2 separate regions of the Homo sapiens genome follow, and region 1 is linked to region 2. A link means that fine-mapping ties the variant in region 2 to the expression of a gene that starts in the linked region. Tissue or cell type: monocytes. Region 2 holds a variant in brackets; the other region holds the start of a gene. All regions are shown on one strand. Distances are between the middles of the regions.

Evidence for each region. PIP is the estimated chance that this variant, and not a neighbour inherited with it, causes the effect.
Region 1: PHETA1 starts here. The variant in region 2 is fine-mapped to the expression of PHETA1 in monocytes (Quach 2016, PIP 0.95).

Annotation. Positions count from the first base shown.
Region 1 is chr12:111,364,923-111,373,250 of GRCh38, forward strand. PHETA1 (PH domain containing endocytic trafficking adaptor 1) reads right to left here and starts at 4,173. Exons shown (of 3, transcript NM_144671.6): 1 at 3,990-4,173; 2 at 1,191-1,335. It overlaps LINC02356 (long intergenic non-protein coding RNA 2356), which reads left to right and starts at 4,339. Exons shown (of 4, transcript NR_187522.1): 1 at 4,339-4,398; 2 at 7,047-7,148. RefSeq lists a silencer at 3,764-4,343.
Region 2 is chr12:111,326,210-111,334,537 of GRCh38, forward strand. It overlaps CUX2 (cut like homeobox 2), which reads left to right. Exons shown (of 22, transcript NM_015267.4): 19 at 8,232-8,328. Among named protein-coding and RNA genes, the nearest start is that of MIR6760, 26 kb to the left of the region's middle. The variant C/A (reference allele first, on the strand shown) is at 5,150.

The sequences.
Region 1 (8,328 bases), 39 kb after region 2:
TCTCAAAAAAAAAGAAAGAATTTGGGGAAAGATGCAGGCCCAGGGCTAGGCTGACTTACAGGAAGGAGGGGCAGGGGGTCGACCCGTGCCATTTAGCATAGAGGACTCTAACTCCATGCCATCGGCCACAGTGACCCCATCCACCTTCCCCCAAGGAGTATATGATGGGGCAACGCTGGCCAGGAAGGACTTGTCGGGAGGTGGCATCTGCGTCCCTGGCCTGGCCACCTTCCCTTGGGGTTTTCCATGGCCATTTTGAGAGCCTGCCTTATCTCCCACTGCAGAGCCTCAGCCTGCATAGGATGGTAGCTACATTTTTCAAGAAGCAAAGGATATAAAGTCCTGGTACGCAGTAGGCACTCAGTGTTCATTCCCCTGCCTGGGTGGTGTCTTTCTCAGAGCCTGGTGGAATGAGGTCAGGGTGGTGGCTCTCCTGGGAGCAGGTGACCGCAGTGAGGCCCTGCCAGACTACCTGTCCTAGGGTGGAGGGGGTTGTCCTTGCCACCTCCTGTCAGCCACATAGGCAGTCAGGGAAGGCTTCCTAGAAGACGGAACATGAGTTGTGACTTAGAAACTGAGATCAACCAACCCAAATGCCCATCAATGATAGACTGAATAAAGGAAATGTGGTACATACACACCATGGAAAACTATCCAGCCATAAAAAGGAATGAGATCATGTCCTTTGCGGGGAAATAGATGGAGCTGGAAGCCATCATCCTCAGCAAACTAACACAGGAACAGAAAACCAAATACCGCATGTTCTTACTCATAAGTGGGAGTTGAACAATGAGACACATGGACACAGGGAGGGGCAGAACACATATCGGGGCCTGTTGGGGGATCGGGGGTGAGGGGAGGGAACTTAGAGAACGGGTCAATGGTGCAGCAAGCCACCATGGCACACGTATACCTATGTGACAAGCCTGCATGTTCTGCACATGTATCATGGAACTTAAAATAAAAAAAGAAACTGAGGTCAGTTTGTCCTGACCTAGTGGGAGGCCAAGGCCAGAGCCCCCAAAGTCTCCAGGTGTTGAATCCCCACCCTGCCTCTCAGCTACAGCTGTCCCTCTCTAAGCCGCAGGGATTCACGCATTCCCCACACCACCACCCATCAACTCCCATGTGGATGCTGGCCCCGGTTCTCACAGGACCCTCCCGCCCTGCTTGCCCAGTTCCGCTCCTACCTCTCAGGCCACCACTTGCCTCCCTGCCCTCTGCTCAGCTCCAGCCTCAGCTCGCTCTTCTCTGGATTCAAATGTCAGCTCTGCAGCATCTGGGCTGGGGGACCCCAGGCAGGCTATTCATCTCTCTGGGCCTCTGTTTCTGCATCTGTAAAATGGGATCGTAACAGTGCCTAAGTCAGGGCTGTTGTGACAATGATACAGTGACTATATGGACTTTGCGGAGCATGGGGCCAGGCACACAGTGCCTGCTGAGCGCGGTTGCAGTTCACATTTTTCTTGGCTTTTCCCCAAACATCCCTGTGTTGTGCTTCCGATCTCAGCAAATGGCCCTTGGTTTCCCTCTCACCCCCGCATCTGATCGCACATCAAGTCCAGTTGATCCCCCTCTCCAGCGTCTTCCAAATCAGTTGCCTAATCTGTCCACTCCACCTCCCCATTCTAGGCCCCATCACCATTCACTGGGATGGCTGCTGTAGCCTCCTCATAAGTCTCCTTGCCCCTCCCTGTCCATGTTCCTCAAGGTAAGATCCAAGCCTCCTTCCTAAGCTCTTCTCCGAGCCACACTGAAATCCACTTCCCACAGATGGATCCTGTGAAAATTAAGTCCAATCACACTCCTCCTCTGCTCTAAACCCTCCCATGGCTCCCTACTTCTCTCAGCATAAAATTAAATCCTTAGGCAGGGTGCGGTGGCTCACACCTGTAATGCTGGCACTTTGGGAGGCTGAGGGGGTAGGATTGCTTGAGTTAGAGACCAGCCTGGACAACATAGCAAGACCCTATCTCTATAAAAAATAGAAAAAAAAATAGCTGGGCATGGTGATACAAGCCTCTAGTCCTAGCTATCTGGGAGGCTAACATGGAAGGACCCCTTGAACTTGGGGGGTGACATAGTGAGATTCTGTCTCAAAAAAAAAAAAAAAAAAATCCAAGCCTCCCTTGGCTTCCAAGTTCCCTTTCCCTACCTCTTTCCCCCTTGTTCACTCAGCTCCAGCCATCCTGGCCTCCTTTCTGTTCCTCAAATACACCAGACACATCCCCACCTCCAAGACTTGGTCCCGGCTGTCTGCCTGCAGGTCTTCACAAGGCCAGCTCCCCATCCTTTGGTCTCAGCCTAGCTGTCACCTCCTCAGAGAGGTGGTCCCTGGCCACCCTATGCACAAGAGGCCCCCCAGTCCCTCTCCTGTGCCTCCACCTGAAATTAATACCTGGGTCATTTCTGCCTGCAGGGGCGTTTGTGGTCTGAATTCTAGTGCCTGGCATGCAGTAGGTACTCACACAGCTGTTTGATTCATTCTGCAGTATCTTCTGAAACCTTTCAACAGCCCCAAGACAAGGGATCTCACCCCACATTCACAGATGTGGAAATGGACACAGGGAGATTCAATAAGTTGGCTAGAGGCATACAACTGTGCCCAGAATCACATGCTCCAGGCAAGCCACCCAAATAAAGGGGCTGATCTTGGGGTCTCTCCACCCCATCAAGGCCAAAGGAATAGCAACTTCCCTCCTGCTCAGCAACCCTCCTCCCCCGACTGCCTAGATAGAGGCCAAACTGGTTCAAGGTCACCAGCAGGCACAGGACCCAGCTCTGCCCATGACCCCTGCCTCCACCAGAACTGGGAAGACAGGAAGCTGCAGGGGCACAGGCGCCAGCCTTGCCTGGAGCGAAGGCCTGGCCCCTGCCTTATCTCCCCACACTGTTTTCCAAGAAGTTCAGAGTCCACTGTGGGCACTGCTGCTGATTCAACAGCCCATGGCCAGACAGGAAGCTGGAGGGAGCCTGGCCCAGCTCTGCTCCCAAGGCAAAGTTCCTGCCTCCGCAGGTCCAGGCTGGAGGACCTTGGACAAGTCGTTTCACCTTTCCAAGTCTCAGTGTCCTCATCTGTTAAATTGGGCTGTGTGGCGAGGGTTCATGAGCTAAAAGAAGGAAAACCCACTGGCAAACTATGGGAAATGGATTGCAAATATTAGCTGCTGTGAGTCGGAGTTTTTTCTCAGCCTCATCTGCAAAATGGTGACGTTAACTTCCATCCCTCTAAGGGCTGAGTGAATTGACTCCTGAAGAGTCATTTTGCAAAATACTTGGTGGGTAGTGAGCTTTCAGGGAAAGAGCTGTCAAAAAGGCAAATAATTCATCCAAGATCTCCAGGGGCACAGCTGGCCCCGGAACCCAGGTCTCCTGGGAGACTGAAGCATGGCATTTTGGCACTCACATCAACGAAAAGAAGCCAGTACCGCAGGTCCTGGGGTTGAATCCAGCTGCCCTCAGTGTCCCCCAGCAGCGGGCGTGGGGAAGAGGGTGTGGCAGGCACAGGCTGAAAAACATGTGTGCCAAGAACACTAAAGAGCAGCCTGGCCGTCACCGCCCCAGCAGGGACCCCAGAGACACGCCAGCACCGCCGTCCAGACACAGGCAGCCCCCTTGTCCACGGCAGGGGCTGCTGCTCCAGGTGTGGCCCTGCTCCCGGCTGCTCTCTGTCCCTTTGTGTGTTGTGCGTGGGAGCTCTCTTAAGTTCCTTAAAGGACAGCCAGAGCCCCAGATGGGTGATCAGCGGCAGAATGGGGGGCTTATCCGCAGTCCCCACCAGCGGCAGACGTCCCTATGGGCTGAGAGAGGGGAGGGTGGTCATTGGCCAAGTTCGCCTCGGCAGCTGGAGAAGTCACCACTGGTGCGGAGTCCCAGCGGGGAAGATCCCCGCAACGCGCTCTCCAGGTGGCCGGGGGACCCCGAGGCCCAGGGCGGCCCGACCCGGGTCCCATGTCCTCGTGCATGTCCCCCCGCCAGGCCCGCCTTACCTCGCAGCGCAGGCCTAGGGCGGCGACGGGACGGGAGGCGCGAGGTTGCGGGGTGGCCCGGCCATGGTTCGGGACTGGCCCGGTGGCGGCGACGGCGGCGGCAGCGCTTTGTCTCCTGGGCGGCCGGGCCGGCGCAGCCGCGGGAGAGCGCGGATCCGACGGAAGGAGGCGGGAGCAACCGGACAGTCCGCGACCCACGGGCGCGCCCCTTTAACCCTTCCCAGCCTGCTCGCGCCGGGCCCGCCCCCGCGTTCTTCCCACCTCCCGATTGGCAGGCCCCGAACCGGCACGCCCCCGTGAGCCCGCCCTCGAAATCACTCTTAAAGGGTCCGCTCCTGGCTCGCGACTCCCCAGTTCCCTAGCCCAGAAAAGCGGATTGGAGCCCGGGAAGCTCATTGCGATTCCAAAGGTAAGGACTGGCCCAGGTCGTGGATTAGCCTGCAAAAGCATTTGGGGGTCCTGGGCGGGCCATTCGCTGAAGTCCTAGGCTTAAGTCCGAACTCCCCCCAGGACGAGGCAGGAGGATTGCCTGAGCCTAGTAGTTCAAGACCAGCCTGGGCAGCAGAGGGAGACCACCATCTCTACAAATAATAAAAATATTTGCTAAACCTGGGTTGCCAGGTTTAGCAAATTTAATGCCCAGTTAAATTAGAAAAATAGCTCTAATTCCTGAAAAATGTGTGAGTGGCAGAAAAAACAGCTGAATCCAGGACATTTGCGTACAGCACTGTTCCATACGGACAGGGCGCCTCGCAAGCTTCCCCTGGCTCCAGGTGAAGAGAGGAAGTTCTGGAATTAGGCAGACTTGAGTTCGAGTCGCACTAGGCCACTGAACACTGTGTGAGCTTAGAGAAATCATTTCACTTCTCTAAGCCTCCGTTTCCTCATCCGGAAAATAAAGACCATCATGATATGTAAAGTGCACGGCACAACAGAAAGCTCTCAAGAAATAGGAATTGCTGTTGTTTTTGCCCTGCCCACCTCCTTGAACCCTTCCTTCCTGTTCCTGCCGCCTCTTCTCCACCACCCGCCACCTCCCAATCACTATTAAGTCCTGGCCTGAAAGCAGGAAGAACAGGACAGACCAGGGTCAGCTCTCCATTGTACAGCCTCTCACTAAGCGCCTACTGTGTGCCAGGCACTGTACCTGAACCAGGTAAGCAGGTGCAGCCAGGAATCAAGACAACACAAATGAGTTCTGGAAGTGATTCATGCTAGGACTGTACGCTAAGGCAATGGGGCAGAAAGCCTGGGAGTGCAGTTTTTTTGTTTTTGTTTTTTGTTTTTTGTGTTTTTTTGTCACCCAGGTTGGGGTGCAGTGGCACAATCACAGCTCATTGTAACCTGAACTCCTGGGTTCAACCGAGCCTCCCACCTCAGCCTCCCAAGTAGTTGGGACTACAGGTGTGTACCACCACACCCGGCTAATTTTTTTTAATTTTTTGTAGAGATCGGGGGGGTCTTGCTATCTTGCCCAAGCTGGAAGTGCAGCTTTTAGACAAGGTGGTCAGGGAAGGCCTCTCTGAGGACAGACCTGGAGGAATGAGGGAGGGAGCCATGTGGTTATCTGGGAGAAGGAGGTCCCAGGCAGAGGGAACAGCAAGTGCAAAAGCCCTGAAATGGGGCCATCCTGGGCATGTTTGAAGAACAACGAGGAGACCAGTGGAGCCAAGTGAGCAATGGGAAGAATAGTAGGAAAATAGGTCAGCTGGCTGGGCGCAGTGGCTCACGCCTATAATCCCAGCACTTTGGGAGGCCGAGGCAGGTAGATCACTTGAGGTCAGGAGTTCGAGACCAGCCTAGCCAACATGGTGAAACCCGGTCTCTACTAAAAATACAAAAAAAAAAAAAAAAAAAAATTAGCCAGGCATGGTGGTGTACACCTGTAATCCCAGTTACTTGGGAGGCTGAGACAGGAGAATCACTTGAACCCAGGAGGCAGAGGTTGCAATGAGCTGAGATTGCACCACTGCACTCCAGCCTGGGTGACAGAGCAAGACTCTGTCAAACAAAAAAAAAACAAAAACAAAAAAAAAAACACAATAGATCAGAGATTATTGGCAAAGCCAGAAAGCCAGGTGACCTAGGGGCTTAAGGACCAGAGGAAAGATTTTGCTTTTACTCTAAGAAGAATGAGGAGCCATGGGAGGGTTTTGAGCAGAGGAGGGACATGGTCTGTGTTAGATTTAACATGGTCCCTGACTGCTATGGGCAGGGAATGATAGTAGAAGCCAGGCGATCAGGGAGAACACTACTGCAGTAGTCCAAGCAAGTGATGGTGGTGGCTTAGAGTGGAGCAGTGGAGGTGGAGAGAAGTGGTTAAGTATAGATATATATTTAATGGATATATGTATTAGTCCGTTTTCACACTGCTGATAAAGACATACCCGAAACTGAGAACAAAAAGAGGTTTAATTGGACTTACAGTTCCACATGGCTGAGGAGGCCTTGGAATCATGGCGGGAGGTGAAAGACACTTCTTACATGGCAGTGGCAAGAGAAAGTGAGGAAGAAACAAAAGCGGAAACCCCTGATAAACCCTTCAGATCTCGTGAGACTTATTCACTATTATAAGAATAGCGTAGGAAAGACTGGCCCCCATGACTCAATGACCTCCTCTTGGGTCCCACTCACAACACGTGGGAATTCTGGGAGATACAAATCAAGTTCAGATTTTGGTGGGGACACAGCCAAACCATATCATTTTGCCCCGGCCCCTCCAAATCTCACGTCCTCACATTTCAAAACCAATCATGCCTTCCCAACAGTCCCCCAAAGTCTTAGCTAATTTCAGAATTAACCCAAAATTCCACAGTCCAAAGTCTTGTCTGAGACAAGGCAAGTCCCTTCTGCCTATGAGCCTGTAAAATCAAAAGCAAGCTAGTTACTTCCTAGATACAGTGGGGATGCAGGTATTGGGTAAATACAGCCGTTCCAAATGGGGGAAATTGGCCAAAACAAAGGGGTTACAGGGCCCATGCAAGTCTGAAATCCAGTGGGGCAGTCAAATTTTAAAGCTCCAAAATGATCTCCTTTGACTCCGGGTCTCACATCCAGGTCACGCTGATGCAAGAGATGGGTTCCCATGATCTTGGGCAGCTCCACTCCTGTGGCTTTGCAGGGTACAGGCTTCCTCCTGGCTGCTTTCACGGGCTGGTGGTGAGTATCTGTGGCTTTTCCAGGCACACAGTGCAAGCTGTCAGTGGATCTACCATTTCAGAGTCTGGAGGATGGTGGCCCTCTTCTCACAGCTCCACTAGGCAGTACCCCAGTAGGGACTCTGTGTGGGGGCTCTGAACCCCACATTTCCCTTCTGCACCACCCTAGCAGAGGTTCTCCATGAGGGCCCTGCCCCTGCAGCAAACTTTTGCCTGGGCATCCAGGCATTTCCAAACATCTTCTGAAATCTAGGCAGAGGTTCCCAAACCTGAATTCTTGACTTCTGTGCACCCACAGGCTCAACACCACATGGAAGCTGCCAAGGCTTGGGGCTTCCACCCTCTGAAACCACAGCCTGAGCTCTGTGTTGGTGCCTTTCAGCCATGGCTGGAGCAGCTGGGACACAGAACACCAACTCCCTAGGATGCACACAGCACAGGAACCCAGGGCCTGGCCCACAAAACCACTTTTTCCTCCTGGACCTCTGGACCTGTGATGGAAGGGGCTGCCAGGAAGTTCTCTGACATGGCCTGGAGACATTTCCTCCATGGTCTTGGGGATTAACATTAGGCTCCTTGCTACGTAATGCAAATTTCTGCAGCCGGCTTGAATTTCTCCCCAGAAAATGGGCTTTTCTTTCTATTACAATTTACTTCTTATTTTTTTCTTTTCTTTTCTTTTTTTTTTTTTTTTTTTTTTTTTGAGACAGAGTCTTGCTCTGTTGCCCAGGCTGGAGTGCAGTGGTGTGATCTCAGCTCACTGCAACCTCCGCCTCCTGGGTTCAAGCGGTTCTTCTGTCTCAGCCTCCTGAGTAGCTGGCACCAGGTGCACGCCATTGCACATGGCTAATTTTTTGTATTTTTGGTAGAGATAGGGTTTCACCATGTTGGTCAGGCTGGTCTTGAACTCCTGACCTCAGGTAATCTGCCCACCTTGGCTTCCCAAAGTGCTGAGATTACAGGCTTGAGCCACCGCTCCCAGCCTGCAAGTTACCTCTTGAATGCTTTGCTGCTTAGAAATTTCTTCTACCAGATACCCTAAATCATCTCTCTCAAGTTCAAAGTTCCACAGATCTCTAGGGCAGGGGCAAAATGCCGCCAGTCTCTTTGCTAAAACATAACAAGAGTCACCTCTGCTCCAGTTCCCAACAAGTTCCACATCTCCATCTGAGACCACCTCA
Region 2 (8,328 bases):
GGGGAGGGGTGGGTTTTGTTTATAGTGTTGTGGTGGGGGAGGGGTGGGTTTTGTTTATAGTGTTGTGTTGGGGGAGGGGTTGGTTTTGTTTATAGTGTTGTGGTGGGGGAGGGGTGGGTTTTGTTTATAGTGTTGTGGTGGGGGAGGGGTGGGTTTTGTTTATAGTGTTGTGGGGGAGGGGTGGGTTTTGTTTATAGTGTTGTGTTGGGGGAGGGGTGGGTTTTGTTTATAGTCTTGTGGTGGGGTAGGGGTTGGTTTTGTTTTATAGTGTTGTGGTGATGGAGGGGGTTGGTTTTTGGTTTTTTGAGACATAGTCTCACTCTGTCACCCAGGCTGGAGTGGTGAGCCACTGCGCCTGGTCTGTGGTGTTAGGTTTTAACTAACTTTTTTACTGTAGTAAAATTCACATAACAGCTGGGCACCGTGGCTCACACCTGTAATCCCAGCACTTTGGGAGGCCGAGGCGGGCCGATCACTTGAGCCCAGGAATTTGAGACCAGCCTGGCCAACATGGAGAAATCCCGTCTCTCCTAAAAGTACAAAAATTAGCCGGGTGTGGTAGCACGCATCTGTAATCCCAGCTACTCGGGAGGCTAAGGCGAGAGGATCGCTTGAACCCAGGAAGCAGAGGTTGCAGTGAGCCGGATGGCACCACTGCACTGCAGCCTGGGTGACAGAGTGAGACTCTGTCTCAAACAAAGAAACAAACAAACAAAAATCACATAACGTAAAATGTACCTTTTAAACCATTTTTGAAGTATACAATTCAGTGGATCTAATACATGCACAATGCGTGTGACCATCACCTCTGTCTAATTCCAGAATATTCCCACCGCCCCAAAAAGGAACCCCATACCCATCCAGCAGTCATTGCCCATCCTCCTTCCCCCCAGCTCCTGGAATTCCGCTTTCTTTCTGTCTGGATTTGCCTCTTCTGAATGTTTCATATAGATGGAATCCTGTACTACTTGGCCTTCTGTGGCTGGCTTCTTTCAGTTAACGTGTTTTCAAGGCTCATACAGGCTGTAGTATGCATCAGAATTTCCTTCCTTTTTTATGGCTAAATGATATTCCATTGTATGGATAGACCCCATTTTGACTATTTTGAATAATGCGCCTATGAAAATTTGTGTACATATTTGTGTTTGAACCCCCATTTTCAGTTCTTCGAACATATATCTAGGAGTACAGTTGGCTAGATCATATGGTAACTCTTGTGTTTAACTTACTGAGGAAGTTCAAAGGGTTTCTGTTTCTCCAGGTCCTTACCAACATGGGTTATCTCCCATTTGTTGACGCTAGCCATCCTGGTGGGTGTGTAAGTGGTATTTCACTGTAGTTTTTATTTGCATTTCCCCAATGTCTGATTGTTTTGGTTGTAGATTTTATTGTCATGGAAGGATTTGACCACAGGTAGGATAGAGGTAAGCAGAGAAGATGGAGAATGGTGCTCCTTGTGGAAGGAATGGCACAGGCAGCGGCTAGGAGGTGGGACCATGCACGGCCTGGGAAGGGATGTGAGTAGAGGTGGCGGGGTCCCCTGCTCTCCCAGAATAGGAAGCCAAGGCTAGGCACAGTGCGTCACACCTGTAGTCCCAGGACTTTGGGAGGCTAAAGCAGGCGGATCACTTGAGGTCAGGAGTTTGAGACCAGCCTGACCAACATGGCAAAACCCCTTCTGTACAAAATTACAAAAATACAAAAATCAGCTGGGCATGGTGGCAGGTGCCTGTAGTCCCAGCTACTCAGGAGGCTGAGGTATGAGGATGCTTGAGCCTAGGAGGTCAAGGCTGCAGTGAACTGGAGTGAGTGCCTTCCAGTCTGGACAATAGAGCGAGACCCTGTCTCAAAAACAATAATAATAATGATGAGGGAATCAGGCCTGGAGGTGGCTACTGTAGCTGCTGGCCCTAGGGAGAGAGTGGTGATGGCAGAGCCACCCTCACAGCCTCTGCTTGTTCATAACCCACTGGGCCTGGAAGCAAAAGGGTGTATCCATTGCCCACAAAGTCCCACAGAGTCTGGCTGTGGGGCTGGGTGTCAGGACCTGTCCAAGCCCCGCTTGTGTATGCCCTGGCCACTGGGGCGGGCAGGGACCGGCACTGGAACCCTGACCATACCTGTTACTGAAGTTGAGCCAGATGCCACGGGAGGGTTATAAAGCACGCCCTTATCCCCACGTCCACTGCCAGGCGCAGCCCCGGGTATAATCGGCGCTACCTACCGTGGCAGCATCAGTATTCCAGACCCTTCCATCCGAGGTTTCTCAGAATTCTCAAGCAGTCAAGGAAGCCCTGTCCTGTCCCCATACACAGTCCCTGTCTTCCCTCTGTCTCTCTCCTGATCTCTGTCTCTCTCCTCCAATTTCTTTTGTGTGTGTGTGTGTGTGTGTGTGTGTGTGTGTGTGTGTGACAGAGTCTCACTCTGTCGCCCAGGCTGGAGTGCAATGGTGTGATCTCGGCTCACTGTAACCTCCGGCTCCTGGGTTCAAGCAATTCTCCTGCCTCAGTCTCCGAAGTAGCTGGGATTACAGGCACCCAACTAATTTTTTGTATTTTTAGAAGAGACAGGTTTTGCCATGTTGGCCAGGCTGGTCTTGAACTCCTGACCTCAGGTGATCCACCCACCTTGGCCTCCCAAAGTGCTGGGATTACAGGCATGAGCTACTGCACCCAGTCACCTCCATTGTCTTCTTTCTGTTTTTCTCACTCTGCATTTTTTTGATTCACCTATCTCTCTCTCTCTCTCTCTCTCTCTCTCTCTCTCCCCCTCTCTCCCTCTCTCCCTCTCCCTCTCCTCCCCCCACCCCACTCTCTCTCTCCCCCTGCCTCTCTCACCATCTCTCTCCCCCTCTGTTTGCTCTGTCTCTTCCTCCCTGACCCTCCCTGTCCCTCCAGTGCTCTCTTTTCATCTCTCTTGCACCATCCTTATCTCTCCAGGAGAGAGAGATTTCCCAGGATCTGGAACTTTCTGTAGTAAAATAAGGAAAGTCGCGGGCAGACTGGGATGGGTTGGTCACTCTGCTCTCTCTCCTGTCCCCAGCTGCCCACAGCCCTGTCTGGCACCCCACCCACAAGCCCAGCAAGGCAAGAAGACCCTGCCTCTCCCTGTCGTCGCCTCCCTCTCCAAATAACCCAGTTGTTCACATGTGACTCCCCCAGCCCTGTAATTAGCACAGTCTTCCTGATAGAGATAATTTCTGAATCTTTCCATCACTTCGTCAGAAGCGATTCTCAGTCAGAGGAGTCAGAAAGGCGGGGTTCTCCCTGGGGGAGTGGGATTGGGGGGTGGCTGTGTTCTTTCCTGCCAATCATCTCCATGTCATCCTGTTCGCTTCGCTTCTTGGCCCTCTAGGTTGGGACATGGGTGCAGATAGTTTTCCAAGAGGGAGATGCCTTCAAAGACCCTCAGTTTTTTGTGTTTTTTGTTTGTTTGTTTGTTTTCGAGGTGGAGTCTTGTTCTTTCACCTAGGCTGGAGTGCAGTGGCGCAATCCCGGCTCACTGCGACCTCTGCCTCCCAGGTTCAACCAATTCTCCTGCCTCAGCCTCCAGAGTAGCTGGGGCTACAGGTGTGTGCAAACACACCTGGCTAATTTTTTGTATTTTTAGTAGAGATGGGGTTTCACCATGTTGGCCAGGCTGGTCTCGAACCCCTGACCTCAGGTGATCCACCCGCGTTGGCCTTCCAAAGTGCAGGGATTACAGGCGTGAGCCACCATGCCCGGCCCAAAGACCGTCAGTTTTCCAGCTGGCCCCAGCCCCTCTCCTGCTGCCGACAGTGGGCAGACACCTAGGACAGACTCTCACTTTCCCAGACTGGCCCTCCCACACCAACATGGCATCAGTGTTGGTAACAGTGAGCCTGGAACATGCCCACGTCAGCCTTGGCATCACATGGATGCTACCTGAATGGCCAGGATCAGCTCACTTGGGGCTGGGGGCACAGTAGACTTCTTGAGACCTCACGGTCACAAAGGGCCATGATGCTGCTACTTCGAACTCGGGGGCTTCACCTTGCCCTCTTCAGGAGTACTCAGGGATCCTGGCTGAAATTACTCCATAGGCATCTGCCCAGAGCCCCTGCCCCACCCCCAGGCTCTGGGGACTCACCTGTGACTAACTTGTAGTCCTTGCCTTCAAGGGGCTCACAGTTGGTAGATGAGAGGACAGTGTTGGGCATAACCCAACCCCAGCTCAAGTCCTGACTTTGCCATTTATTGCTGTGTGATCTTGGACACGTTGTCTAACCTCTCTGAACCTCGGTTTCCTCACCCATAAAATGGGATGACATAGCACTTACCTCTTAGAGGTGTCATGAGGGTCACTTGAGATCATGAGCATTGGCCAGCCACAGTGACCCATGCCTGTAATCCCAACACTTTGGGAGGCCGAGGCAGGAGGATGACTTGAGCCCAGGAGTTTGATACCAGCCTGGGCCACATAGTGAAACCCTATCTCTATTTAAAAATACATATACATATATATATATATATATATATATATATATATATATATATATATATATATATATATATATATATAAAGAGAGAGGGATCATAGGCATAAAGCACATAATACTACACTGGGCATGTAGTAAGTACTCAATAAAGGGAATTTATTAACATCATCATCATTGTCATCAGTAAGGAAGAGATCTGGCCCAAGCAAGAAATTATAGCAAACTGTGACAATATATATTCAAGGTGCTATTAGACCCCAAAAGTCTAATAGACCTCAGGGAAGGGACATTTAGGACTGGATCTTGAGGAATGCATAGGAGTTCAAGATTAGAAGGAAAGTCCTCAGGATGGCAAGACCAGCCTGAGCAAAGACATAGGGGCTTAGAGAGGAGCCTAGATGTTTGTGAAGGGGAGTGAGGGAAATGCTGTAGCTCCAGTTGGCAGGGACAAGGGAGTTCAGAGCCTTAATCACCAAGACAAGGTGATAGACATTTCTTGCACAAGGGGCAATGGGGAGCCATTGATGATTCTGGAGCATAGGAGTGGTCTGATCCGAGTGACCAACTCACCCACGACAGAGAAGGAAGGAACCCATCCTGGGCTCAGGATGTCTCTTCTGAAAGTAAAGCCGTTGCTCCCTTTTCTTCCAGCTGTCATACATTTTAATGGTTATTTTAACAAGTTTCCAG[C/A]AGGTGGCAGTTGAATGCCTCAAGGAAGAGGCATCTTTTTCTAATGTGCTGGGATTAGGTGTGGCCAGTGCTGGGATTCCTAGACCCCACACCATGCTTGCCAACCCATTAGGGGTGCCTCCCTGGGGATGCTCCCACCTTTCCTGGTTTCTCAGGAGGCTCAGCTCACACTGGGACTCCCATGGGTGCCTCTAATGCCCCAGGAGGTGGAGGTGGTAGAGGAGGTGGAGGTGGACCCTTGCCCCACGTTATCTCATGGAGGTCTCTCGATGGCCCCAAGTAGTATGTATAATGCTACGTGTCTTATGGCCCCATTTAACAGATGGAAGGACGGAGGCTTGGCAAAGTCATCCACCCGAGATCACAAGCCCCAGATATCTTTCAAATCATTTTTCCAATATATAGTCACACAAAATGTCTTTTGAAAAATGAAAAATGGGCCCGGCATGGTAGTTCAAGCCTGTAATCCCAGTACTTTGGGGGCGCCGAGGAGGGTGGATCACTTGAGGTCAGGAATTCAAGACCAGCCTGGCCAATATGGCGAAACCCCATCTCTACTAACAATACAAAAGTTAGCCGGGTGTGGTGGCAAACGCTTGTAATCCCAGCTATGGGGGAGGCTGAGGCAGGAGAATCACTTGAACCCAGGAGGCTAGGTTGCAGTGCGCCAAGATCATGCCACTGCACTCCAGCCTGGGCGACAGAGTGAGTGAGACTCCATCTCCAAAAAAAAAGAAAAATGAAAAATGTAGTTTAAAAATCTGTCTACCTTTTTTTTTTTTTTTTTTTTTGGAAACAGAGTCTTGCTCTATTGCCCAGGCTGGAGTGCAGTGGTGTGATCTCGGCTCTCTGCGAGCTCCGCCTCCCAGGTTCAAGCGATTCTGCTGCCTCAGCCTCCCGAGTAGCTGGGATTACAGGCATGTGCCACCATGCCCAGCTAATTTTTGTATTTTTTAGTAGAGACGGGGTTTCACCATTTGGCCAGGCTGGTCTCCAACTCCTGACCTTAGGTGATCCTCCCACCTTGGCCTCCCAAATTGCTGGGATTATGGGCATGAGCCACTGCACCCGGCCCCAATCTAGCTTTTTAATGTGGCATTGCACCATGGACATCTTTTCATTACATTTTCTTTCATTGCCTCGGAAGAGCCCACTGCAGGGATCCCCCATATTTTATTCAGCCAATCTCCTGTGGTTGAACTTGTAGATCATTGCTGGATCATTGCTGACTTCTTTAGTTGTTGCCGTTTATTTAACTTTTCGTTTTGAGGTAACTTCTAATTTACAGAAAAATTGAAACAGTAGAACAGCAAACTCCCTGCACTGTACCCAGTTTGAACAGTTATTAATTTTGCCATAATCGTGCTCTTTCTCTGCCATTTGAGGAATTCATTGACATCTTGTCCCTTTAGCCCTAAATGCTTCAACAAGTGCTTTCCAAAAACAAGAAATTTTACAGTGGTAAAATACTGGCATGTATCCCACCATCTATATTCAGGTTTCTTCAGTTGTCCCAATAATATCCTTTATGAGCTATATAAATTTTTAGATACAATATATAAATCTTGGCCAGGTGCTGTGGCTCACGCCTGCAATACCAGCACTTTGGGAGGCTAAGGCAGGTAGATCACTTGAGGTCAGGAGTTTGAGACCAGCCTGGCCAACATGGTGGAACCCCGTCTCTACTAAGAATACAAAAAATTAGCCGGGTGTGGTGGCATGCACCTATAATCCCAGTGACTTAGGAGGCTGAGGCACAAGAATCTCTTGAACCCGTGAGGTGGAGGTTGCAGTGAGCCAAGATCATGCCACTGCACTTCAGCCTGGGTGAAGTTTTTTGAGACAGAGTGAAACTCTTGTCTCAAAAAAAGAAAAGTGAGCCAGGCATGATGATGCACACCTGTGGTCCGAGCTGCTTGGGAGGCTAAGGTGGAAGGATCACTTGAGCCCAGGAGGTCGAGGTTGCAGTGAGTTATCACCAAGCCACTGCACTCCATCCTGGGCAACACAGCAAGACCCTGTCTCAAAATGAATTAATTAAATAAAATATGTAAATTTCTTTTCCCTGTGCAGGATGAGATTCAAGATCACTTGTGTTTAGTTTTCATGTTTTGATTTCGACAGTTCTGCCTTTCTTTGTTTTCCAGTGTTGCCCTTTCTGAAGAGTAGAGGCTGTTATTTCCTGGACAGTCTGAGTTTGGTTGCCTGATGTTCCCTTGAAATCAGATTCGGGCTGTGTACTTGGGGCTGGGAATATCACAGAAGTGATGCCATGTCCTTCTCAGGCCATCCTCTCAGGAGGCCCATGTTGCTGACTTGCCCTGTGATTGGTGATAGTAACTTGGATCATTGGTTAAGATGGTATCCACCAGTGCCTGTAATCCCAGCTAGTCAGGAGGCTGACGCAGGAGAATCGCTTGAACCCGGGAAAGAGGTTGCAGTGAGCCGAGATCGCACCACTGCACTCCAGCCTGGGTGACAGAGAGAGTCCAACCAGGTCTCTGTACTGTAAAGTGGCTACTTTTCCCTTTGTAATTACTAAGCATCGGCCAGGTGTGGTGGCTCATGTCTGTAATCCCAGCACTTTGGGAGGCTGAGGCGGGTGGATCATGAGGTCAGGAGATTGAGACCATCCTGGCTAACATGGTGAAACCCCGTCTCTACTAAAGATACAAAAAATTAGCAGGGCGTAGTGGCGCATGCCTGTAGTCCCAGCTACTTGGGAGGCTGAGGCAGGAGAATCGCTTGAACCCGGGAGGCGGAGGTTGCAGTGAGCCGAGATCACACCACTGCACTCCAGCCTAGGCAACAGAGCGAGACTCCGTCTTAAAAAAAAAAAAAAAATTGCTAAGCATCATGTGGGGAGATACTTGGAGACTTTGTAGAAATCCCAGTCCAGTCCTCATCAAACTTTCATCCACTAGTTTTAGCATCCAGGGTGGTCCCTACCTGAGCGATTATTACTACAGTGGTTGCAAAATGGGTGTTTGGCAACTCTTGGCTGTAAGAAGCAAGCCTCCCGAAAGTGGATGTGTCTGTGCCAGATTATAGTAACCACCTTCTCTTTCTCTGTGGCCCACAGCCAGTCCCACAGAACCAAGGTCCTCACCATCCCCACCCCCCAGCCCCACAGAGCCTGAGAAGAGCTCCCAGGAGCCGTTGAGCCTGTCCCTGGAGAG